4 linked regions of the Homo sapiens genome follow. The protein of the gene in region 2 interacts with the protein of the main gene of each other region in a pairwise test. Each region holds a gene or a part of one and is shown on either strand. Other genes may lie near its edges. The genes, in order: BACH2, CTSZ, PLSCR1 and KRTAP3-3.

What was found.
Region 1: the proteins of CTSZ (region 2) and BACH2 interact in binary tests that used the Homo sapiens proteins (3 or more experiments, as listed by UniProt).
Region 3: the proteins of CTSZ (region 2) and PLSCR1 interact in binary tests that used the Homo sapiens proteins (3 or more experiments, as listed by UniProt).
Region 4: the proteins of CTSZ (region 2) and KRTAP3-3 interact in binary tests that used the Homo sapiens proteins (3 or more experiments, as listed by UniProt).

What each region holds. Positions count from the first base shown.
Region 1 is NC_000006.12:90,293,841-90,301,221, forward strand, and holds the start of BACH2 (transcription regulator protein BACH2), read right to left. Parts: upstream 3,004-7,381; 5' UTR 2,640-3,003; intron 1,367-2,639; exon of another isoform or gene 1-1,366. UniProt on the Homo sapiens protein: Transcriptional regulator that acts as a repressor or activator. Binds to Maf recognition elements (MARE). Plays an important role in coordinating transcription activation and repression by MAFK.
Region 2 is NC_000020.11:58,997,255-59,004,287, reverse strand, and holds part of CTSZ (cathepsin Z preproprotein), read left to right. Parts: intron 1-2,643; coding exon 2,644-2,823; intron 2,824-6,534; coding exon 6,535-6,685; intron 6,686-7,033. UniProt on the Homo sapiens protein: Exhibits carboxy-monopeptidase as well as carboxy-dipeptidase activity. Capable of producing kinin potentiating peptides.
Region 3 is NC_000003.12:146,514,666-146,520,626, forward strand, and holds the end of PLSCR1 (phospholipid scramblase 1), read right to left. Parts: intron 2,503-5,961; coding exon 2,341-2,502; intron 1,437-2,340; coding exon 1,380-1,436; 3' UTR 515-1,379; downstream 1-514. UniProt on the Homo sapiens protein: Catalyzes calcium-induced ATP-independent rapid bidirectional and non-specific movement of phospholipids (lipid scrambling or lipid flip-flop) between the inner and outer leaflet of the plasma membrane resulting in collapse of the phospholipid asymmetry which leads to phosphatidylserine externalization on the cell surface.
Region 4 is NC_000017.11:40,992,906-40,998,481, forward strand, and holds KRTAP3-3 (keratin-associated protein 3-3), read right to left. Parts: upstream 1,260-5,576; 5' UTR 1,193-1,259; coding exon 896-1,192; 3' UTR 525-895; downstream 1-524. UniProt on the Homo sapiens protein: In the hair cortex, hair keratin intermediate filaments are embedded in an interfilamentous matrix, consisting of hair keratin-associated proteins (KRTAP), which are essential for the formation of a rigid and resistant hair shaft through their extensive disulfide bond cross-linking with abundant cysteine residues of hair keratins.

The sequences.
Region 1 (7,381 bases), on a different chromosome or scaffold from region 2:
TCATCCAGGGATTTCAAGGCAGTTTGCAAATAATTAAGCCCCTTACACAGCAGCCAGAGGTGAGCTACTGGAAAAGAATTGCCTGAAGATACTAAGTCAAAGGGCATAATTCAATAGGAAAATAATAAATGGCTTTCTCCCAGGCACTGGTAATACAGAAAGTGAATCCTGATCCCCTCCCTCTCTTTCACCTCACCCCTTCTTCTTCATAGCAGATCCTGACATGCAACATACAAAGAACCAAAAAAGTAACTAACAGGAGTGTTCACAATTTAGCTATGAGTTCAGACACACACTTAACTGAGAAGTGTGTGTCTCCATGTAATCCTGGCAAACACACTACCAACTGACATTTCAGTCCACCTGCAGAATAGACAGACAGCAGAAGAATTTACTCAACACATTCATGATTACCAAATGGCAAACCTGAAGCCTCCTGCAATGCAAAACGAAAATACGGCTCTGCACCAATAAAGTTATGTTCTAACAAAAATACTTTATTCCATGGTTGTGTGTTCCATTTCTGGGACTTCGCTCTATTTCAATGATATTCAGGTTTCGAGAGTAAAAAAAACGTTGGAAATGGGCAATCAATAAATTTCTTTCAAAAACCAGAATACTAGAAGGGAAAACATTTCAGCCACTCAAAGTTTTGTGGTGAAATTATAAACTCCAGAAAAACTGAATTTATAATGGAAATGCTGACAGACCTTTCAGTGGAGCAGTTTGAACGCAACACTGTAATTTGGCAATCTCTCTTACAGACTAAAGACTAATTCTAACAAGATGTCATTTTGACTCACGTTTATTATTACCTGCAAGAATGAAAAACGCCGTTTACTCGGGAGGTGCCCGAGAACCAGGGTGGGGCGATCTCACATTTTAAGCAAGACGCCCGCTGCCTTACCAAAATAGCCCTCTCCGCCAAAGGAGGGGCAGCCTTTCACGCTCAGCTTCTTTCATGTCAGCCCGAGCCTTTGCAGCAAGACGTGCCTTTCCTACATGTTACATTTTAATGATCTGAGAAAACCGTTATCAGCGTTAACATCTCTAATTTTACTCTAAACAGACAAAAGCAAAATATCTCATTAGGCATCATCTCCGCCAAGGTTCCCACTAGGCAGGAAAGGATTTTTATCTAAAGTAATTACCCTTTTTAGTTAAATACACTCAACAGATGAAATTTACAGAGAGTGAGAGACTGCAGCACTAGACAGCGAAGGTGAAAACCAGGAACGCCGCGTCTCGCCGCCCGCGGGCCCGCCGGGAGACTGCGGGTCCGTCTCGCGGGTGGGGCGCCCCGGTCCCTCTCGTTTCCTGGAGGCCACAGGTCACGGCGACGGCGGTGACCGGGAGAGCAGGCTGCGAGGCGCGCCTCATCGGGCCACAGACAAACCACCCCGGCAGCGGCCGCGCCGGAACTTCCCTCAAGTTACCAAACTCGCCTACGCGCGGGAGAGTGCTGGGGATGCCCCATGCGCCCGCGACCCCAGAAGCCAGGAGTGTGCCACCCCTTCACACACTCACTCCCGGCCCTGCACGCTTCCCCTCACGGTCCGAGTTCCTGCAAATGCTTGGCCAGACCGAGGTCGCCGAGATGCTCGCTCCAGTCTCTCCCCTCGTGGGCACCTAGGGTAGCCCGTGAGCGCCGCCCGCCGCCGTCTCCAGCGGCGCCGGGCTCCCGAACACCCGCCGGGTGAGCGAAGCACAGCGGGGCCACGGAGCGCCTCGACGCGGGGACGGGGAGGGCAGTGTCCCCTTCATAAACCAGTCTCCTGGGTGAAGCTTCTGGGGCTTGGAGACTGGAGTGTAGGGTGTGTGTGTGTGTGTGTGTGTGTGTGTGTTGCACCTTGACTTCATGGAGGATCTGTGGGAGAGGAGGTGCAAGGTTTCCCTCTCAGAAGCCTGGCGCCCTTAGGTCTTAGCTACGCGGGACGCTTTCCGACAACCCGATCTTTCGCTAGGAGAGATTCGATCCAGGTCTGCGCCGCGAGGCCCCCAGCTCGCCTCTTCCTGCGACCCTAAACTTGGGCTTTGATTCCCCGCCGGTCGCGGTGGTCCGGGCCACCCGGCGGCGGCTGACAGCTGAGCGCAAAGGCGCCGCGGCCAAGGTCCTCGCGGAGCAGCCCGGGATGCGCACGCCGAGGGTTAAGGAGGAGGCCGCCCGGCCTGGAGCTGGGATCGCAGGCTGGGGGCCGGGACACCCGGGCCTCGCCGGGCCGGGGGCAGGGCCGCGGGTCTGACAGCTGCTGCGGCTCGCGCGGACGCGCGCCTCCTGCAGCCCGCCCTCCCCATGCCTGACTTATTACTCTCTGCTCCTCCTCCCTCTGCTGTTCCAAAACACCCTTCGACGCCAGCAAAATACAATGCGCCTCGGCCGCCGTAAACAGCCGGGAGGGAGAGCACACATTCGGCGCGGCGCGGCCGCCGGCTCGGCTCCCACCCCCTTCCCGTTCCTAGAAAATGCCATAAAAGCGGGCAGGGCGCGGGGAGGGCGGCTGCGCGCCCGGCGGCCGGGGCTCCCTTCCCGCGCCGTTTCCCCACGCCTCCCCGCCCGCCCCGCGCGCCCGCTCCCCCCGCAAACTTGCCCCGCCACCCCGCCCAGCGGCGGGGCCCGGGGCCCGGGGCCCGGGACTCACCTCGCCGGAGAACTTTGCGTCCTTTTCCGCCTCCTCTTCCCCGCGTCTTCCCGGCTCGCAGCCCCCTCCCGGCAGCCGGCGAGGTGGGCAGTTCGTGGGTCACCGAAAGCTCGCGGAGGGGACGCGCATCACATGGCAGCTCGTTCCCAGCCCCCCGAGTGCGCCGGGAAGGGGGAGGGGAAGGGGCGAGGGGAGGCCGGGGGGAAAGCGAGAGCGGGGCGGCGGCGGGAGTGGGCAGGCGGGGTGGCGAGGGCGGCGGCCGCTCACGTTAGCGCTGTGCGACCGCAGCCCGGGCGTGCACGGCCGCTGCTGCCGCTGCTGCTGCTGCTGCTGCTGCTGAGGCGGCGGCGGCTCGGCGCTGTTTGCTCCGCGCCGCGCGGCTTGCGCTCTCCCCGGAACGCCCACACTCTCAATCGCTACATTGTTGACATTCGGCGCTGACGTCACCCGCTCCCCATTCACAATAACTTTACGGGAGCCGGGCAGCGCACCTCCCCGGCCGCTGGGGCGCGGTACGCCCGGCGACTAGCGTAAGCCGCTCCGCGAATGGCGCTCCGGGGGCTGGGGCGGGGGGCGGGGGACGGGGGCGGGCGCGCGCGCTCCGCTGGCTCGCGGGAGGGGGCGCGCCTCATGCCGCCGCAGCAGCAGATCTCCCCGCTTTGTGCGGCCGCGCGGCCCGGAGAGCCCCCTCCTCCCGGCCCGGCTGACCGCCCCGCTCGGCCTGGCCTTCCCGGCCACGAAAGACGAGGGTTGGGGGCATAGCAGGGTGAGAGTAGTGGTGAGGGCTGGTGTGGCACGTGGGGAGGGGGCCAGAGCCCTAGGTGCTGCACCTGGGGAAGGAGAGCAGACGTCGGGACCGGGGATCCCAGGGTTAGCTAGCGTTTTCCCGGAAGGGCAAGAAAAGATGCTCCACTGGCCCCCACAAAGCTGACCGGACTCCCTTTTGGGTGGGGACCGGGCGAGTAAAAGCAGCCTTTTGAATGTTGACTTCTCAATCCTTTTCAGGAGGCCCTCCGCCTGCCCTACTGAGCGAACCTTTAAGCCCCCAAGCCAGTGTTTTTGGAAAGAGAGTGGTCAATTTCAGGAGGACATTAAAAGCCAACCTCCCGGGCTTCAGCCCCAGCTCCTACTGCCTTCCAGCCACTCTCCCCTGCCTTTCCTTTCTGCGGCTCTTAGGATGTTGTTGCTGCCCTTAAAGGCCGTCGTGTGAGTGCCCTGTCAGAAGAAAGCTTGGTGGTGGTTAGGATTTTACAGAAGGTAATTAGGATTTAGGCTGAATGTACATTTGCAATAAAATAAGGTTGTGTTAGTGTTGTGCTGGTGCCTGCAACTTTACCTCTTGCCAAGGCCAGAAAATTCTGCCACGTTTCCCTAAACACCTATAACTTGGCCCTCTTGTGTACAGGCAGTATTCCATATTATTACACGTGGTGCTGATTTTTAATGAATATTATAAAAGTTTGGCTCGCTCTACTGAGAGAAGGATCATAAATCCCCCCTGTAAAACGGGCACTGGCGTATGCTGAGGAAGCAGTGAAGCGTCCTGGGAGTCTTGTGATATCATCTAAAGTGTTGCTCTGAACTACCTTCATTTGAGGGCAGAGTTTTGAAAGGCCCCATTTGGAATGTCTGTGTGGAAAGCTAAGTGATGGCTGAAAGCAAGCTGAAGGTGCTGAGCTAATTTTTCTAACAGCACTGCAGAGTCCCTGCGTGGAGGTCTGGCACGGGACTGTGAGATTTTCTCTGCTAACCGACCCGGCCTTCAGATAAGGAAAAGTCCTAGAGCTAGGAGTAGCCCTCAGTCTCCTGACCTCTGGTCTGGTGCCCCCTAGGACAAAACACCCTGCTTCTGAGGTCCCTGCCTGACCCCTGGCAAGGACAGAGTACTAATTCCTGGTCTGCCCTGGCCAGGCCGTTTCTTATAGTTTTATGGATGGTTCTGTTTCTCATTCCTCATTCTTGTAAGTATGTGTTTGTGAGATAACTTTACGCATTTTAGTAGCAGCAATAAATGTTTTTCTCACAACAAGGGATGCTTGAGAGCATCCGTATGAGAGTGGTGTAGATTCATTTATTTTCAAGCAAGCGGTGGCTGCCCAGCTGTGAGTGGAGTTGGGCACATCAGCGTAGGGGTGGTTGAGGAGGGAAATGAGGCTGCCAGCTGATCTCCCACCTCCATTCTGGATTCTACAAGCTGATCTTGTCAGATGGATACAACAAAGGCTAACAGGTCATTTCAGTTAGTCTGCTTGCCCAAAGACTCAGACTGGAGCTTTTTCACTTTGAGATTTTCAAGCATGAGGTGGGACATTAAATAGAGATGAAAAAACCTAAAACACCTGTGATAGGTTGCATCATCCAGTCATTCAAGGAGGCTGAATTAGGAGTAGTTAGCCTCTCAGGTTACATCCAGCTCTGCAATCATGCACCTCTGGCTGTAAGACGAAATCTTTGCTTTGGATAAGCTTTGAAGTCTGGTAGTGAGTTCATTTTTCTACTTTATTTTCGGTAGTTAGAAGTGGGTTATTTGAATTCAAGCCGAAAAATACATTCAGAATTATGTGAAATTAAAATGGTAAGTCAAGTACTAGACACTCATTTAACAGTACTGCTGCAGAGGTTGGGCTGTGGACAGCCTTAGCACCTCCATCATGAGTTTGCATGGCCACTCCTGGGCTTGTGCTGCTCTGGCAATTTAGGCGTTTATGATGTGAAACAGATCCAGGTCCTTCCCTCTGTATAATCATGGCAGTAAGTTGAGTGGAGGTCAATTTATTTCTCATGCCTGGAGCATTCAACCTTTCCTGATATACATTTTTTTCCTACATAATTACACATGTGTGTTGATCCAGAGCATGGGCTTTGTCTGTGATTCATTTCTAAGCATGATATTTCCAGGGACAATAAATCTGTATCATGGCATTGAAACAAATAAACTTTATTTCTATAATAGAAATCTTCTTGATTGTAGAAAATAAAACAGGAAAAATTAAAATATACAGGAAACAGATGAGGAAAGGAAGACGGACTAAAGACATGGGCAGTTCTTGAGCCTTTGATTTTCTTGCTCTCCAGCACCCTGTACAGGATTTGATGATGTTGAGAAAATATTGTATTTTTTCTTAGGCAGAACAGTAGACAGAATTTCAAATGTGGTACCTTGAATAAGGCATGGCAGGGCAAATTTAACATCCAATGAAATCTGACAAAAGTGAATGGAGTGGGATGCTGTAGGGGTTTCTGCAGACAAGGAACATGTCCTGGCCTCAACTCCTAAAGGATCACTCTGCTGGGTCACGGGAAGTACAGGAATGGAAGCAGAGAGACCAAGTAGGAGGCTATTGAGATAAGTCATTAGAGAGGTGATGGTGATTTAAACTATTAATAGAATGCTAGAATGACAGCCATAAATGGAATCCAGATATATTTTCAGCATAAACCGGACAAGATTTGTTGATGATTCCATTGTAGGATATGAGAGAAGAGTCAAAGGAAATTCTGAATTTTGGACTGAACAGCTTATTAATGGAGAGTTCATTTATCCAGGCGGAGCAGGTATGGGGGAAATGCTGAAACATTTGGTTTTGGATATAGTACATTTCAGATGTCTATCAGACATCTAAGTGGAAAAGGTGAGCAGGTAATCAGACATGGGAATCTAGAATTTAGGGGAGAAGTCCAGACTAGAGATAGAAATCTGTGTGTCATCAACACAGCAACTGGAAACATGGGTGGAGAAGAGGAGCAAAGAGAAGAAGTCTAAGGTTTAAGACCTGGGGCACTCCGACATTTAGAGGTCAGCAAGATGAAGAAAAAAAGATCCCCACAAGGAAGCTGAGAAGCTTCCTTGAGAGAGAAAGGGGCCAGTTCATCCCAACCAACAGAAGGAAGGGCAGCACAGGTGGGGAAGTGCAGGGAGGCTGGAATATCATGGTAGGAAGTATGGGAAGCCGTTGTCTGAGGAATTCTGTTTTCTTAGTGGAGTAAGAAGATAGACCGTTCACTGATAGTGGAGGAGGGAAGGATAGATTTAGGGGATAGAGAAAAGATGTGAACCAGTGCCAGGGATGTGGCAGAATTGCTGGACGGCACAGAGGACCTTGGGGGCCCACTCCTGGGGGCTTTCTGGACACACCACTGCCAAGAAGAGATTTCTCATTGTACAAAATCTCACACAAGTTTTGAAAAATGATCAGGGCAATCCAAACCAGAAAAGCAAAAATTTTGCTTCTAGCTATTGTTAAATTTGGCTGGCAGCCTTTTTCCTTCAAACTGTATATCTCTTATCTGTCCCATCTTCATCTCCTCAAAGATTGCCTCAGTTCCTAAGAAGGACTTTGGAAATAGTCCCTAAAAGAAAGTGATGTTCTTATATTACTATCTATAGTGATCTTCTTCTATAGTAAAGAATTGATGCCACTATTATCTAAAAGCTTATATGAAATAAACTAGTAAAATATGGTATATGAAATAAACTAATTTTTCAACATACACTACTGAGCATCTGTTACATGTTGAGGTGAAAAATTAAGAAACATTGGACTGTATCCTTAAGGAACTTAAATCTACATAAGGAGTCAAAACTAATATACATGAAACAATTGAAAAATGTAATTTTGTATTTGATTTTATTACTTTTATATATTAATATTTAAAATTATATAGAAATTGTATGTGTTATAATTTATACTAATGAAAAAATTAAGAATGTACAGATCTTTTTTGTATGATAGCAAAAAGAA
Region 2 (7,033 bases):
GACCAACCCTTCACCTGAACTCAGCTTGACATCCACCTGCCCACTCGCCCGCTGTCCCGGTCACCTGACACCTCCAGCCTCAGACCTTCAGGTCTGGATGGCTCCTTCCACTACTGTCACCTGACAGCCCATTTCTTCCCCAGTCCTCCCTGGCTGTCCTTCCGGCTATGCAGGCAAAAGCCTGGACTGGTACCCGACTCCTCTGTTTTCTGTCCCTCATATAATCCACCCACAAGTCTTGTCGGTTCTACCTTCGAAGCAGATGCAGAAATCACGCACCGCCCACCGCCTCCTCCAGGTCTAAGCCACACCGCCCCACTGCCGACTGCCCTCACTGGTCTCCTGGCCTCTGCCCCTGAGGCCACAGTGAGCCTGTGACAACCCATCAGAACATGTTCTTTGGCTTGAAACCCTCTCAGGATTCCACTCAGATAAAAGACAGAACCCTCTGGCCTTCAAGAGCCTTCACCATCGGGCTCCCTCCCAGTCCGCCCTTGCTCCCCTGCTCCTGCGGAGAGTGGAGCAGGGAGGTAGCTTCTCCCACCAGGCACCTCCTCTCTCCCTGAGGTCCCATGGCTCCCTCCCTCCCTCCTATGGATGTCACCTCAGCGGGGTCTTCCTCAGCCACCCTATGCATATGACACCCCACTTCCTGAATTATCTCCCGGATTTATTTTTCTTCATGGTGCTGTAGACTTTGCACAGTTACAGATGCTCCTTGACTTAACTGTGGGGTCATGTCCCGACAACCCCCTCGTAAGTTGAAAACACCATGAGTGGAAAATGTGTTTGACACACCCAGCCTCCTGCACACCCTGGCCTGGCTTTGTCTGCATTAAACGTATTCAGGACACTTGTGTTAGCCCACAGTGTGAGTAATAAGCCCGTTCCCAGATGGGGCTGGTGGGATGAAGGATTGAGTTTGGCCGTGGGAGAAGCTTGTGCATACCTCAGTGAGCTGGTTAGGCCGGGTCCAGATGCTTCAGGCAGGAGTAGACGGAGAGGCCAGAACCGAAACTGCTCATCCATCCGAGCTCTGCCTCTGGGCCAGGACTGCTGTCGCCGGGTTGGGTTGGGCATAGAAGGATAGGGCTCGGGGGCAGGCCATGGGACGCCCTGCACTGCCAAGTGGAACTCCAGAAGCCCAGGCAGGAGGTGCTTCCAGAAGGATGGAGCGACCGCTGTGCTGACTGCTGCCGGAGAGTGGTCAGCTCGGATGACAGTGGAGAAGTGACCTTTAGCAAGAGAGAAAGGGCTGAAGAGGAGCGGGGCAGTAGGGGTCGGGGCACTGTCTCAAACCATTGAGTGAAGCAGAAAACCGTGATAGTGAGTGGGAGGGGCCGGGGGCTTCCTCTGTTGTTGTGAGAAAGGCAAGTTTGGGGTGTGCAGATCTGCTTAGAGGGGGCATAGCTGACAAGGGAGCGGGGAGAAGGAAAGCTGGAGGGAGCCAAGTCCTTGGGAGGAAACAGGATGGAACCTAGGGTGGGTCGGTCAGGTGGGAGGGGACAAACCAGCCACCGGCTGCTCCAGGAAGAGGGTTTGGGGTGCAGAGCATGGGCAGGCTGGGTGGCGGCAGGATGGAGGTCTGCTTTGGGACTTTTCAGTGATGCGTGAAGTCACCAGAGCAGGGACAGTTCCAGAAGGCCCCTGGCTGGGCGACCGGGAGGAGGCCAGGTGGAGGAGCGGACTGTGGGGCAGTGTGGGAGAGTCTGGAAGGTGACAAGAGATGGAGGGGATGTGCAGGTCCAGAGGGGGCTGCCAATGGGCAGAGGGACTCCCTGCTCATTGTGCCCTGGGGGAGGGACAGGTGAGGCTGCAGGAAGAGTTCCGACTTGAACGTGGGGTCAGGAGATGAGGCCTGAGGCAGGTGCAGGGGTGTGTGGCTGTGAAATCATTGTCCTGGGAGGGCAGAGTGAGATGACCCTGAACATGGGCCCGGATTTCCTTCTAGGATCTGTTTTATTGCATTTGTGCATGGGAAGGGAAGCAGGTCCCTCGGTGACCACCCTGAGCTGTCCCTGGCTGCACCTTGGGATTTAGAGCCCAGCCACCTGGGCAGTGAGGGCATGGTCAGCCAGCCGCTGGGAGCCCTCTGCATCCCCCAGTGCCTTCGGGGCTGGGTCCCTGCTGGCCTTCCCCAGCCCTCAGGACCGCATCTGGCCCCTCACTGGGGCTCATGCGGCTCCCTGGGCTATACTCGTTCACAGAGCTGACACCTTGGCCCCCTGTCCACGAGGGCAGGGACGGTCTCTCCTGGCTGGCTTTGGGGTGTGGCCCACTTGCCATGGGTGGCTGAGTCTCTGTCCATTCAGCCCTTCATTCAGCAGGCACTTCTCAGGTGTCTGCAGGGCCAGATGCTGGTGACCGCCTGGCCCTGGCCCTGCTCTCATGGCATTTGTAGCGGGAGGTGTGGCAGACAGGACAGTGCCCAAAGAAGGCCAGGAGAGGCCTCTCTGCAGAGCGACGTCTGAGCGGAGACCTCCATGAAGAGGTCAGCAGGGAGAAGGAGACACAGGCAGCTGGGCAGAGCTGAAGGCAGGCCAGGCTGGGCAGCGCCTGCATCCCGCCTGAGGCGTCCAGGTCCGTTCGGGGAAGTGGGTGGAGAGTGGGTGAGTGCTGACTGGCAGGTGCTGACTGTTGCAGATCGGATCAACATCAAGAGGAAGGGAGCGTGGCCCTCCACCCTCCTGTCCGTGCAGAACGTCATCGACTGCGGTAACGCTGGCTCCTGTGAAGGGGGTAATGACCTGTCCGTGTGGGACTACGCCCACCAGCACGGCATCCCTGACGAGACCTGCAACAACTACCAGGCCAAGGACCAGGGTAGGCTGCTGCCCGTGCCCCCACTCCACCCTCCTGCCCTCCACTCCCTCTTCCACAGGCCTTCGTGGCTGAGGACCCAGCCTGACCCCGTGCTCCTCACATTGGCTGGTGGCTGGGGAGCTGCGGGAGGGCAGAGGTTGCAGCCCCCAGGGGCGCTGGTGCTCTTGACCATGAGGGGTAGTGTTCCCAGTGCCAGCTCCAGCCTCTCGCTGCAGAAGCCCCCTCTGCTATCTTGCACCCGCTTGGGCTGGGGATCAGAAAACTGGACCCCGTAGTCCCTGTTGAGAAGCCCAACGAAAAAGCCTGCTGCAGGAGCGGTCTGAAGAGCATCCTTGGCCATGCGCGCGGTGGCTCATGCCTGTAATCTCAGCACTTTGGGAGGCCGAGACAGGCAGATCACTGGAGGTCAGGAGTTCAAGACCAGCCTGGCCAACACGGTGAAATCCCGTCCCTACCAAAAGCACAAAAATTAGCTGGGTGTGGTGGTGCACACCTGTAATCCCAGGTACTCGGGCAGCTGAGGCAGGAGCATTGCTTGACCCGGGAGGCAGAGGTTGCAGTGAGCCAAGATCGCGCCACTGCACTCTAGCCTGGGTGACAGAGCAAGACTACGGCTCAAAAAAAAAAAAAAAAAAATACCGGCCCTGTCCCCATGTCTCCAGCCTCGTGGAAGAGTGTCTTGCTCCTGTGCCCCTTTGGCTGGGCCTGAATGTGGTGTTTGAGTTCTGACATGCTGGCATTTTGGTGGCTTTTTGGGCCTTTGTAGGGGAGAGGTGTAGGGGGCCTTGTGGAGGGAGAGTTCATTTTCCAGGAGCTTTGGTGGAGAGCAGGTGGGGAGGTGCTGCCCCAAACTGGAAGGAGCCATTGGCTTGGTTCCTGTTCTGGTGACCCAGGGCCCAGGTCCCCCACATTCAGGTGCGGCTACGGCCAAGGGGGTGCTGTGTGGATGAGCAGACCCAAGCTAGCCTGGAATCCCTAGAGCTGGCACATTCCTTTCAGGCTGCTCCCATTAGAAACAGAAGGAAAGAAAAGTCCAGACCCTAATCCCATAATTGGTAGGTTTTGTTTGTTTGTTTGTTTGTTTTTGAGAGGGAGTTTTGCTCTTGTTGCCCAGGCTGGAGTGCAATGGCACGATCTCTGCTCACTGCAACCTCCGCCTCCCGGGTTTGAGTGATTCTCCTGCCTCAGCCTCCTGAGTAGCTGGGATTACAGGCATGCGCCACCACGCCCAGCTACTTTTGTATTTTTTAGTAGAGACGGGGTTTCTCCATGTTGTTCAGGCTGGTCTTAAACTCCCAACCTCAAGTGATCCACCTGCCTTGGCCTCCCAAAATGGTGGGATTACAGGCATGAGCTGCTGCGCCCGGCCATAACTGGTAGTTTGTTTTTTTTTTTTGAGACGGAGTCTCGCTCTTTCGCCCAGGCAGGACTGCAGTGGCGCGATCTCGGCTCACTGCAAGCTCCGCCTCCCGGGTTCACGCCACTCTCCTGCCTCAGCCTCCGGAGTAGCTGGGACTACAGGCGCCCGCCACCGCGCCCGGCTAATTTTTTGTATTTTTAGTAGAGGCGGGATTTCACTGTGTTAACCAGGATGGTCTTGATCTCCTGACCTCGTGATATGCCTGCCTCGGCCTCCCAAAGTGCTGGGATTACAGGTGTGAGCCACCGTGCCCGGCCATAACTGGTAGTTTTAAGCCACCTGACTCAGATCTCCCTCACAGCCAGAGCAGAGAGCTGGGAAAGCCCAGCAGCTGCTTGCTTTGCTGCCTCCACCCCTGCCCCAGGCTATATAGGCTGGCCCCAGCGCCCTGTGCACTCTGAAGTGGCAGAAGGTCCTCTGGGCACCACCCTCTGCCAACGGGGCTCCCTTGCCTTGCCTCTCAGGCCTTATTGTTCAGCCAGAAATTCTCCTGGACTGGCTGAGTGAGTCCTTCGAGAAGGGGGACAGATGGAAGGTGCAGAGGGAAGGGCTATCAGATGGCTCTGGAAGCAGGAAGCAGGTATCAGGTGGTCTCCAGGGCCACGCCCACTCCACGCCAAAGTGCTCTCGCCCAGCTGAGGCCAGGCCCCTCCAACCCACCCAGCCTGACAGGAGCAGATGGAGCTCATCAGAAACCTGATTGTGTGACTGGTGACCGCGGTGGCTCACACCTGTAATCCCAGCACTTTGGGAGGCTGAGGCGGGCGGATCACTTGAGACCAGGAGTTCGAGACCAGACTGGCCAACATGGTAAAACCCTGTCCCTACTAAAAATACAAAAAATAGCCGAGCGCGGTGGCATGCGCCTGTAATCCCAGCTACTCAGGAGGCTAAGGCAGGAGAATCACTTGAACCCAGGAGGCAGAAGTTGCAGTGAGCCAGGATCATACCACTGAACTCCAGCCTGGGTGACAGAGTGAGACTCTGTCTCCAAAAAAAAAAGAAAAGAAAAGAATAAAAAAACCTGATTGCGATAAATAGTCATCTTTGTAGTGTTAGCAAAAGTGTGGCCACACATCCACCATTTTCCCGTAGTACTGGGCACTGGGCACTTGGTGTGCAAGGAACAAATTGAACCAGTGTCTGAGCCTCAAGGTGCTCATGTTCCTGGGGGAGGAATCCCGACAGATGTGTAACTATGACAGACAGGTCGCGCCAAAGCAGCGAATGGCAGGCCGAGGGCCGCCGTGTGGATGGAGTGAAAAGTGGGAACACAGTGACTCTGAGCCTTGCAAAACCGAGAGCTGTACTTTTTCTTTTTTTTAAATTAATTTATAAAATTTTTTTTCTGTAGAGATGAGGTCTCGCTCTGTTGTCCAGGCTGGTCTCAGACTCCTGGTATCAAGCCATCTTCCTGCCTCGGCCTCCCGAAGTGCTGGGATTACAGGTGTGAGCCACCACGCCTGTCCTTTCTTTCTTTCTTTCTTTCTTTTTTTTTGAGACGGAGTCTCGCTCTTGTCGCTCAGGCTGGAGTGCAATGGCGCGATCCTGGCTCACTGCAACCTCTGCCTCCCGGGTTCAAGCGATTCTCCTGCCTCAGCCTCCACTGAGTAGCTGGGATTACAGGCATCCACCACCACACCCAGCTAATTTTTGTACTTTATTAGTAGAGACAGGGGTTTCACCATGTTGGCCAGGCTGGTCTCAAACTCCTGACCTCAGGTGATCCACCCACCTCGGCCTCCCAAAGAGCTGGGATTACAGGCGCCTGGCCCTCTTTATTTTATTTTTTAAGCCTAATTCTTGATAACCTCTTAAGTCGAAATAACCAGAATTTTTTTTTTTGGTCCCCTCAGCGTGGGCACAGAAGAAAATGCTTTTTTGTGGTTGTTGTTACCCAAAGTATTGGCCTATTTATTCACCAGCCAGCAATAGAGACATTTTATTAAGTGCTAATCATTTGATTATGCTCCATTTTCAGCTAGAAAGTATTGTGGAAAGGTCCTTCTCCAGCCATTAGAGGAAAAAGGCGAACTCCTGGGTGCCTACTATGTGCTAATTAATGTCTGTCTCTTTTCTTCTCTGCCAAGGCCTGGGGAAGGGCTTTTCATAACTCCCTGGCAGCTGAAAGAAGAGCGTCATTAAGCAGCACCTAATAGCAAGATGATTTCCGTTCTTAGCTGCTGAGTGGTAGGCTGCATGATGAGAGTGGAGAGTGGGCTTGGCGGGCTTCTTTGTCAGTGGGTTGATGAGGAGACGGCCTCATGCTGACTTTTCTTGCTCTCCCCCAGAGTGTGACAAGTTTAACCAATGTGGGACATGCAATGAATTCAAAGAGTGCCACGCCATCCGGAACTACACCCTCTGGAGGGTGGGAGACTACGGCTCCCTCTCTGGGAGGGAGAAGATGATGGCAGAAATCTATGCAAATGGTCCCATCAGGTGAGGAGAGGTCCCGCGGGCAAAGAGAGGTTTGCGGGTGAGGAAAGGTCCCGCGGGTGAGGAAAGGTCCCGCGGGTGAGGAGAGATCCGCGGTGACAGCGCCAGTGTGGGCTCATGTCGGTGCTCATGTAGGCATCTCCGTCCTTCGCCACTTTCCTTCTGGCCGGTTGTACTCAGTAGGCTCGAGACAGCCACATCATTTCCCCTCTAAGAACTTCAGTTTTCTCAGAGTTAACACTCAGCTGATAGCAAGTCTGCCCCTATGGATGGTTGTGCGGAATGCGGATGAGACGCTCCAAGCTGTACCGAGGGGGCAGTTTCAGCAGGGAAGACACTATGTGAATAACA
Region 3 (5,961 bases), on a different chromosome or scaffold from region 2:
CAGTTTGTTTTTGTGACCACATTTTTCCTGGACACCGGACAAGAGCCTGGGAGCCATGAGTGCCGATATAAAAGGCTCTCACATTCGCCATTTGCCCTTGCTGGTGGAGGGCAGCTGTCCCACATGACAAGGCAAAGGGCCCACTGAGCTGTTAACACTTAAGCCGTCCACAGACAGCAGAGCTAAAAGAGCACTGTTAACACATCTTCTGGGGCTTCAGGAATCGCAGGCAACCCCACCTGGATGCTACCACAGGGCCTGCACAGTTTGTTCCTGCCCATGCCAAAGCGGCCAGCCAGTTCCAGTGCTTGTACACTCCAGTTCCTGCCTTGTTTGCCTGTGCACTCCCTCCCAGGAGGAGTTGAGAATGGCAGGCTGAGTAAACAAGGCACCCCTGTCTCGAGTCCTGTGAAGGGGTCAGGGAAATATCCTGCTTCAAATGTACCATCATTTAACTGAATGAGTGCTCAAAATACCATCTGAACACATTTCGTTTAAAAACAAAAATCAAATATACAAAAAAATCAAGTTTTTATTTCAAATATTTGAATCTAATAGATCATTATTTAGGTTTATACTCTGTGAATATATATATGATATTGTATTTAATTAATATCTGAGTAATCTCAATTACCATTTTCTAGGAAGGATAGAGTGTAAGAGCTAAACATTTCATGTAGAAATATTAACTTTCAAAAGTTATAATACCAGAGTTTTAGAGTGAAGGAGTATTTAAAATGTGTCTTTCTTTGGGAGAGAATCATTTTGTTCTTTACTAACAATAATTTGAAAATTGGTAATTTAATATCTTGTGAATATGAAAATATTATGGTATAGATTAGCTTCTAGGAGAAGTTAAGTGTAGCATGATTTCTTGAAGATTAAAAAAACATTTAACTTTTTAAAGATAATATGCATATTGAATATTATTTGAACATAATAGTAAAGAAAATTATCTTTGAGCTTTTTTGAATATATGGCATTTGCAAAATAACATTAGCTCTTATGCATGAAATAAATTGTAACTAGATTTAATAGGACAAGATATAATTTATATAAAAATTAATAAGGCCTTAGTTAATATTTGGTAGTAAAATGGACAATGAATCAGAGATCATAATTCAAAGCAGTTTTTCAAAGGAAGTTTCATTAATAAATGCAAAAACTCATATGTCCTTTTTCTCAAATTGACAATGAGTATTAAAAAATGTACAAAAACCTTTATAAATCAGTTATACAGAAGATAAACTATAATTTGAAAAGCAAAAGTATACAACCAGAGCTACAGGCCTTACAGCTTAATTCATACAGGTATGAGTTTAGATAGTCTCAATCAATATACAGACTTCAGATTTCCTGAGGAGACTTTCACTAATCCACTACCACACTCCTGATTTTTGTTCCTGGCTGCCAGTGCTTTCAAAAAACATGAAGTCCTAGATAAAAACAAAAGTATACAAATGAATTTTCAACAACAAAACAGAGATCAATTATCAGATGCAGAAATACTAAGGGATCTAGTGAAACACAGTAACAAATCTGTTAAAAAAATTAAATGTAATAAGTAAATATACAAAAGCTCTATAATTATATAAGTTCTGCCTTTGGCTTTCCATTTTAATAATAAATTCTATAATTCTATTCATTTATTGATACCTGTATGAATTTAATTAATCTTCCAGTCATTTTCTCTAAATGTTACTTTTTCTCTATCCCCATAATTCTCATCTTTGGCTGCATACTGGAATCACCTGGAACACTATATGAACTTCGAAGTTTCTGATTTAGTTGAACTGAGGTATGGACTAGTCCTTGGAGTTTTTAAAGTCCCTAGGTGGTTCTAATGTGAAGGCAATTTCAGAATCACTGGTATATCCAATTATTTCCTGTAATTTGGTAGTTAGGTCTACACACTTGAGTGAATGTACACTCTTATTGTACTTCATACTCCTATATTAGATGGTTTAATTTAATTACTATGAGTCATGGTAAAGTTTCCTTGTTTCACTAAATTTTTTCCACATATGCCTACTTTCAACTTCTTCCTCAAAGCATCTAGGAGATGCCTGATTTAAGGGGAGACTAAAATCTCTCCTTAGTACATCTCCTTAGTCCCCCTCTTGCCATGTGAATATTCATAGACTCTTCAGGTAGAAACTAGTCACCTGTGACCCCAGAGTGTCAGGATCAAATAGAATTTCAGAGCTAGGATTAAATGGGAATCCTGATTTAAAATCTATAAATTTTAAAATGTCATTTTGAAATATACACTTTACTGAATCATTTCAGAATGAACCTAGAGAAAGCATCTATAATCAAGATTAATAAGAACAGACTTACAATGAGGAAACAGGCACCAATCATTACAGCTTTCATTTTAACATCAAGGTCTAAAGGGAACTGGATTCCAAAGTTATCAGCGTCTGTAAATGCCTCTCTCAAAATTCCAGTCCAGTGCTTGGAAATTTTGCCAACCACACACTGTTCATCAAGAGATTTAATCTAAATTGAAAAAAAAAAGTATTAAATACTTTTAGGAAACTTATAGCAAAAGTACTTTCAAATTTGAAGTAAGATGAAACAAATATGGTATTAAAATTATGCACCATATGTAACCCTCATTAGATAACTGGAGGCTCCTGTATCTATTTATAGATATATGAAAAAAACTGTTTCATTGTACGGAGAAATTATATTTCAGAAAGTTTTCCTGAAATATTTAACAATTTCTATTTTATATTAATATAGACATTAATAAATTATTTGAATTGACCCAAAAGAAAATTTAAGCAAAAAAGGATATAAATATGAAATGTTTCTTTGATGACATTTCTAGAAGCCATCAGGAAGTTAATGAACAAAACTCCTATTAGACTTCTGCTTTAGGAGAAGCACAGTTTACACAGACTGAAAGATTAAATATGATGAAAAGGCTTATTACTACCCACTGTGAGTTGCCAAACATGAAATGCTAAGCACCTAGAAAAGATTAGCAGTTTGGAGTAAAGGCAAATACCAATAAGTAACTTGATGAAATGCCCCACGCCAAGGGTTGAGGTTGAGAGTGGATAACTAGTGGGGTGTGAATAAAAGATGAAGAGTGTATGAACAAATGAGCTCCGAAGTAGAAGTTTCCTAATTTTACAATTCTGCCTGAGGAAAGCCCAGGGCCATCATATAGGGTTGAATGGACTTTGCTCAGACTAAGGCAACTCCTCTAGGAGGGCAGGTGGGGACTGAATGTAGCTGAAATTCACAAAACTATGTACACATATAGTTGTATTAACAGAGGAGTGTCCTTTTCAGCTAAATAAATGTGGGGAATCTAAAAATACTTGACTCATTTTATTTGAGTACAAGTGGATAGTTTGTAAAATACTAGAAATAAACATCTAATATGAAGCTGATAGCATAATACTGTTCATCAAATATTCATTTCATTCCCTCTCCTTCTGTAGGGCCAGTATACTTCCTGTTCCTTCATAATTAGGCTTGGCCATGTTACTTGTTTGAACAACGGGTGTTAGCAGATATGACATGAGTAGTGTCCTTAAACTTGGCTAAGTGCTTTGGCCTGGCTTATGATCTTCAGTGACAAGCCACTAGAAAAGCATGACTCAGGTAGCTGCTGCTGCTACAGCCATAGAACAAATCTACCTGGAGCAGATTGAGGTTAACATGCGCCTAAGTCAGTGCTTAAATACATCCACTGAAACACAGTTGACCTACACACCCATAAGCATGAGTATAAACACTTATTGCAAGCTGCTGAGTTTTAGGGATTATGTGTAATGAAATACTACTGTGGTGAAATAAACTAATACAAATCCTTTCTTGTACATGTTAGTATTTTTCTGCTAATAGCTGTCATTGAAGCATTTGAAGCTAGTAATGAAAACTCTTATGTTTTATTTTTTAATTCTGAAATTTAAAAAAATGAAAAATGCAGCTGACAACTTACTAGCCACCGTAAACTCAACACTATACAGATAAAGATATTAACATTTGCCCTTTTTGATTACTACAGCAAGAAATTTAACAAAGTAGAGAATACATTTTTTATGGCAAGGATAAGAAATGCAAATAATGATCTTCAACCAATAAATTAGCAGGACTAGATAATTTTTAGCTAAATTGTAGACATTTTGGAATAGAAAATCACTATAATAAAATGTCAACATTTGGAAATAATAAATTGGTATTGTATAATGTTAAACTTTCAAATCCATGAGTGCAATACTAATTGGTAAAAGCATTCTAAAAAGAAAACCATAGATTCATCTCACAATGCAAATATAAATGCAAAATACTGAAATATAATGACAGCATATAGGATCTAGGTATGTAGCAAAGAAATATAAAAAGTGTATCATGAGTATATTAATAGTTGCTGGTAAGCTATTTTATTTACTTACTAATGATTTATTTATTTACTGTTATTACACCCAATTTTCATGTAAAAAAACTAAAGCAAAGAGAAGTGAAAGAATTTGTTAAAGTCACATAGATAAGTGTTGTGAAGATGGGTTTCAAACCTGGGCATCTGGCTCCAGTGTCTATACTCTTGACCATTAGGATTGTCTGCTTTTTAAAAACATATTTATTGAATACTAATGAAAATCTAGTTGAGAGGGCAGGAAAAAAAATCTGTGGGCTATAGTTGACCATATAAAATTTATCACTACTCAGGATCAGTTTCTATATTTTGAGATTCCTGAAACACAACAGTGGCAGGAATTCAGATTTCAAGCTCATAGACAGAGCTGACTTGGTATGTCAGTTTCATGTGGCCATATTTTTTCCCCCTACCAAGAGTCCTTGAAGGAGACAGACTCTCTTATCACCTATATTGGATAAAAGGTCTACTAGGCTCTCTCTTACTCACCATTAAGATAACCTTCTTAGAGATTCAATTACTGTCTGTTTGCTGAAAACTCTCCATTCTTTTCCTATACATAACTAAAATCCAACATGACCTTAATTCAAGTCATTAACTTCCCATATATATTTTATATAATCAACTACAGCTCATTGATTATATTTTGCTGATCCCTGACCTAGATGTGTATTAGTATTTGATACCTTACTTTTTAAAAAGCAGACTATCATAATGGTCAAGAGGACACAAATCAAGTGTTTTTCCTCCAAGATTCTTAACTTGGCCAATGTAATATCAGAATAATAACACATCAAGTTTATCTCCAAAATTTTTTTCATCCTCAATTGATATCAAATCCATGAATTAGTTCCACATAGTACACCTATGAAATGCCTCTTGAGTTATTCTCTGTTTTAGAATGACTCCTGCCCCTGCTGTGGAACAGGCTTTTATCTCTTTTATTACTTCAAGTTTCCATGCCCAGTGACACCCTGGTGGATTTCATGTTCCTTAGTGGTCCCTCATACTGATAATTTCTGCTTTGAGGTGTCAAAGTTTCCATTGTCAACTCTATGGAAAATTCTTCAAGTGACTATTTCTCAATTCTTTCCATGAGAGTACCTTGATATCATCATTCTAGATAAATAGAAGAAAAGTTAATTTATTACATGGAATGGATGCTTTAAGGTATCCATCAAGAAAGACTGCCAGATGAAACATAAATTTTTTAGTATCAAATACAAGGATTACACAATGTTTTTCCAGTGTTTTCATTTATTTACTAAAAATAAAATATATGCCAGCCAAACTTCTGTTAATATTGTTCCTTGAATGAGAAATTACTTTTCACTTCTCTGGATGTAGGACAGAGATTCCATCCCTTACATGAAGAACTGCTATTATGCATACCCTTACATAAAATTTTTATACATGCATATTATGCACACATATACATACACACATTATATAATCCCCTTATAAGAGCCTTTTTAAAGTTTCTATATCACATCCTCCTTAGAACTGCAAATCTCTGTCATTAGATTATGAAGTCAATGGGGGAAAGGATTCATCTTTATATAGCT
Region 4 (5,576 bases), on a different chromosome or scaffold from region 2:
ATTATAACACAGCAACTGGCATTCGATAATTATTAACCGTAGGAAGAAACAAATGGATGTTGTGTTTGTATTTGCTTCACCTGCCAGATGGTTAGCTTATTTTCAGCAGAGACAATAAAACACAGGACACACAATAGACATTTAATAAATCTTAGTTGAATAAATAATGACATTATTATATTTTTTTCATAAATAGATCATGTCACCTGGATTAGTTTATATATTTTGTCATATTTGGTGTTTGGGTAATGTTCAGTATTTCTCAACCTGTCTGAAACCATTTTTTGGGAGGACAAGTCAGGAAAAGTCTACTTTCAAATATGCCGATGTACTAGACCATCTTACATGCAAGGATGTTTAATTTTCTTAAAACAGCAAGAACAGCAAAATTAAGAAATTTTTGTCCATACTGCCACCATTTTCAGTTTCACTAATGTTTCCAGTTTTTCTTTAAATGCCAATGTTCAGAGTTAAGAAACGCATTTAATGAATGAACAGAAATAAACAGAAGTAATTGTAGACACTTGTGCTATGCCAGAGATGTAAAATTTATTAGGATAATCATGAAGAACTTCCTTAATTTTCAGAAAGATACCACCCAAGACTGAAAACAGAATTCCCAAACCACCCACAGAAAGAGACACTTTAATATGAAGGAATCGAACAGCTTCAGGAAGCTATAGGCATCCACTGATTCAAACTGCAGTTGGTTATAGCTGAATGGTCATTGAAAGTTTCTTGGTCTCTTTTTTTTTGCAGGGGGTGATTGTGGTAGTACCATCCTTGTTCCAATTTCTAAAGCAGAGTACATTAGTTGTAGGTACTGAGATAGGTGAATGCTAAAGCTTCTATGTTGACTTTTTCAATCTCAGGCACTGAGCAAAGTAGCCATCCATTAGCAGCCTCTTGGGAGGCAGGGCTCACAGCAGGGCTGAGTGAAGGTGGTGAGGTTGAGGGTCTCCAGGCCTGGAGTTGGCTGGCAGGAGTTGAGCAGGAAGCAGGTGGGCACGCAGGGCTGAGGAATGTGGCAGGGTGGGGGACAGTTGTCACAGCAGGTGGGCTCCAGTAACCAAACTGTGTGTGGGCAGGTGCTGGGCAGGCAGACTCCACAGCGGCAGGATTTGTCAGAGGAGCAGATGGTGGTGGCAGGCCCGGTGGGGACACTGCAGCCTCGAGAGGCACAGCAATCCATGGCTATTAGAGTCTGTGGTATTTATGGGTTTGATTGAAAAGAAGGATAAGGCTTCTGAGGTGTGAATATCTCTCCTTTCTCTGGGGCTCTTATGTACCCTCTCCACTGGGAGTTGGTCCAGCCAAGAGGCTTCTTTCCTGGTTCTTGTTTATGTTAGTGTACCCATTATTCTTTAATTTGTTTGACATTTAGACTCTGTAAAGAGTCCCCATTTTCCTAATTAACTTTTATTTGAGTTCGTTGCTAAATCTGAACTGATTACCCTTGCTATTTGTCACTGGAACACAAGCTTTATGAGGTATCACCAAAGCCTTCTGTTATTATATTTTCAACACCAGCCCTGCTGGGGAATATTGCATGACAGTGAGTCTGTAATATGTGGGCCTGCTCTCCAGTGCTGCTTTATTTTTAATCTGTCACTTTATCTATACCAATTTGTCTGATAAAGTATTCTTGTTTTAAAGAGTTGAACTTAATTTTACTTTCTTTTAGCTTTGAGGCTTTTGAAGATCAAAATTACATTAACATGAAGAAATATGCCATTAAGAAATATGGAAAAACTTTAAAAAACGCTTATTATTCTAGTTTTTTACTACAAAATATTTTGTATACATTGTTTATCATTACATTACATTACTGGAATCATATTGTGCATAGGTTCTGAAACTTGCCTTTGTGTGTGTGCATATATATTATATATATATATAATTATCTTATATTTTAAAGGATATTTGATAGTGTTACTTTTAATATTTCTTAGCATTTATTATATAATTGCACTTCTATGTTACTTTAAAATTTTATATTATTATGCATTGAGGTTATTTTCCACTTTTCTCTACAATAATTTTGGCAACAGAGCACCTCTGTATGTAAATCTTTGTGCATATTTTTGATTATTTCAGAAACAGAATTAATTATTTGGTAGAATTATAGGGGCAAATGTTAATTTCCAGTATTTTTAAGGCCTTTCATATCATTGCCATACTGTTTTTCAGAATGGTTCTATTTACCTACTTTTTTTTTCAAATTATCTATTTCCACCAGATGTGTTTGATTAAGAATTCCCATTTCGTATACCTTTGACAGATACTTTATTTTAAAGGTGTTTTCCAATTTCATTGGTGAAAAACACAATTTTATGATTGTTGTGTCTGTATTTCTTTTATAACCAGCTAGGTTGAAATATTCCTTCATATGCATATTGGCCATCTGTCTTCTATTGAGAGTTGGCTTGCTTTGTTTCCTTCACTGCTAATTGTGGGCAAATTGAATTTTTAGCTTCTGTCTATATAGACTAAATAAAATAATAACTTAAGAATACAAAACTAAAATTCAAGTAAAATTATTACCAAAGGAAACTTATGAGCCTGAGCTAGATTAATCTGTTGACATTTGATTTCATTCTCTCTCTCTCTTTTTTTTCTTTTTTTTTTTGCAAGGTATTGCATTTTTTCCTGAAATCAAATGTAGCTGTGGTAGGAAAGACCTGGTTCTAGTACCAGTACGCTATTTAGACTGCAGGCATAGTTCAGTGTTTAAGAGGGAGCACAAGGTGGGCTTGTGGCCAATATCATTTATACACCTCGAACCATTTCCGCTCAGCTTGGTCTCATGCTTCTTGCAAGCCATGGTTCTTCTCACATTCTTCATACCTCCTCTTTTAGGCACACCTGTTGAGTGGTGCATTGTGGTGTGCATGTTTGTATGTTTTGGGAATGGGGACGTGTAGTCAAGAGGACCACCTGAGGAGTCAGAATAGCTCTTGACTGTTCCCGGTGCTGCTGGTTATCTTCCTCGTTATGGTAAGTAATTCACTTTTAGGAGCTTCATCCTTTTTCTCTGCGAAATCAGGGTAATAGCATGCATATTCCTCCACTTAGAAGATTATTGTGAGGTTCACATGTGATAAAAAGGGTGAAAGCTCATGGACAACCATATAATGCTATGCAAAAATAAATTATTATCATGATTGAAACAAATTACAGATGAAATTCAAGGCAAGGTAAAGATAAAAGAAACATAGTCAAAAGAAGAAAAGAAAATGAGATGAAGGTAAGTAAGAGAGCAACCTTACAGGAAAGAGCAAACATTTATATTAGTTTATACAAATAAATAAATAAATAAATAATCACATCTACGATTAGAGAAAGTGGTTGGCATATAAATTAACAAACCTAAAAATTTGAAAAGCTCCCTATGGCTCTGATTGAAAGGGAGAATTCATGATATCTTCTGGTTCCTGGACTTTCCCCAGATTTATCTTTGTATGAATGCCTGCCGAAGTGTGCACCCTTTTACTTAGAACTGATTAGTATTTCACTTATTATTTAAAAAGTAATTCAACAGACATTTACTGAGCAGTTACTATGTGCTAGTCACTGTGATAAATGTTGGATTTATAGCAATAAACAAGATAGGCACCATCCTTGCCCTCATGAAGTTTACAGTTTGGTGGAAGAATTTTTCATACACATAACATATTATTATAAGCTGCTGCTATTATACATTATAATAGGAAAGAAAAAGAGTAAAAGACAAAAAATAAAAGAAAAAATTATTTTGAGGGAAACATTACAAAGGAAACATGGCTTGCAGACCCTCAGGATTAGAATTTCATGGCAGAAAGCTATCAGCTTCTTACCTGGGATACAATATTACTTTGAGTTCACCATAAAAGCTTAGAGCAACTATTACTGTTTATGCAGCACATTGTGTTTCTCTAATCATAAATAAGACAAGGTTACAGATTACAAACAGTTGTAATGCAACAAGTTTATTATAATAAGCTCTTCTCTTTTATTGACAAGACTTGCAGCACTTTATTAAAATGTATTTTCTCTGCAGTGGTCTAAGAGACCTGAGAATTACTCTCCTTTGTTTATAAATGATGACAGTGATTCATAGAGAGGTGAGATGATTTGCCTTAGATGGTTCGGGAGCCAGTGTGTTAAAAACTAAATATAGGACCTATTGGGATTGAGCTACCTTTTATGTGGTTAGAAATGGAAGTTTAAACTATGTGTCAGAGATACTAAGCATTTTATTTTTAAAAACAACGCGTATCTTTTTTCTTTAAGTGAATGTAGGAAAAACATGGTGATTCTTGATGAGATGGTAGATTTTCGGGGTGCTAAAAATCTAGACACACACACACATACGCACACGCACACTCACACATCCAAGAAGTCCAGTTTTAATTATATCTTTCTATAGTCAATGGAGGGATCTGGGACAGTGCAGATGTAAATCAAAGATTAATAATGAAAAGAGACAGAAGCAAAACATGATTATATTGGTCTCTTGCTTGAAATATTTCATTGCTTCAAAGTTTCAGTCCAAACCCCTTTGCTTTGAGGAGCCCCTTATGTCTGGGTCTTTGCATTTCTGTCTTCTCTGCCTCACCCTCTTCAATGCATTGTTCATCCAGTCATTCCCAACTACCTCCTGTGGCTTAAAGACACCAACCTTTCCGCTGCCTCCATGATTTATTAAGCTGCTATTCTGTCTGGAACAACTGTTCCCTACCTCTCCTGCTGCCTATTCATCTTTTAAAGCTTAGACTGGATAGCTCAGAGGCTTTCCGTAGCTATTTCTCACCTTTGACACTGAATCACCAAATCAGGGTTTTAGTTATTCTTTCTGTATGCTTGCATGCCATGCTGCTCACCTCCCAGTCACAGCAGAATCCCTCAGCATTGCAATTATTATTATGATAACTTGTCTTTCTTCTTCACTAGATTTGGGAGAGACTTGAGGGCACTTGAGACTTGAGGTAATAGCATTTCTTTTATCTTTTTACTCCTGGCATCAATATGATGCCTGACATAGGGCAAACACTCAGGAAATATGGACAAATGAATGAGTGAATGGACTAGATCTCTTGTTGACAATATCCTCTGTAGTGTCCCATAGACTCCATGGCTGCTAAGTTCTGTTCATTTAAGGTTGAGCTGTAAAAAGCCTATGGAATCCCGTGAGAAATTTCTCTCTCAAGACACTAACAGGTACATTGAGGACATTTTAAAACAAGTTTGTTAAAAAGCATTTGCTTCTCCCCTTCCTTGTCCTACTCTGTTTCTTGCATGTCTTCTTGTGGTTTTATTTCAATGCATTTTCAGATTTTGACTTGTGTCTTTATATATGTATTGTGTATAGATATACATACACACATATATTTATATGTGTTACATAAATGTATTGGATGTATTATATATATAATATATACTTGTTCTCTCTAGGCTTGGAAAAGAAAAATCTTCATGAGATAAAATTAAGTAGGTTGATAAAATTAAGTAACGAATTAAAGCATACGTAATCAGAGTTTTAGCTCTCAACCTGAGACACCTGAAAAGTATTGGCATTCTATTGATTACTGTGGTAG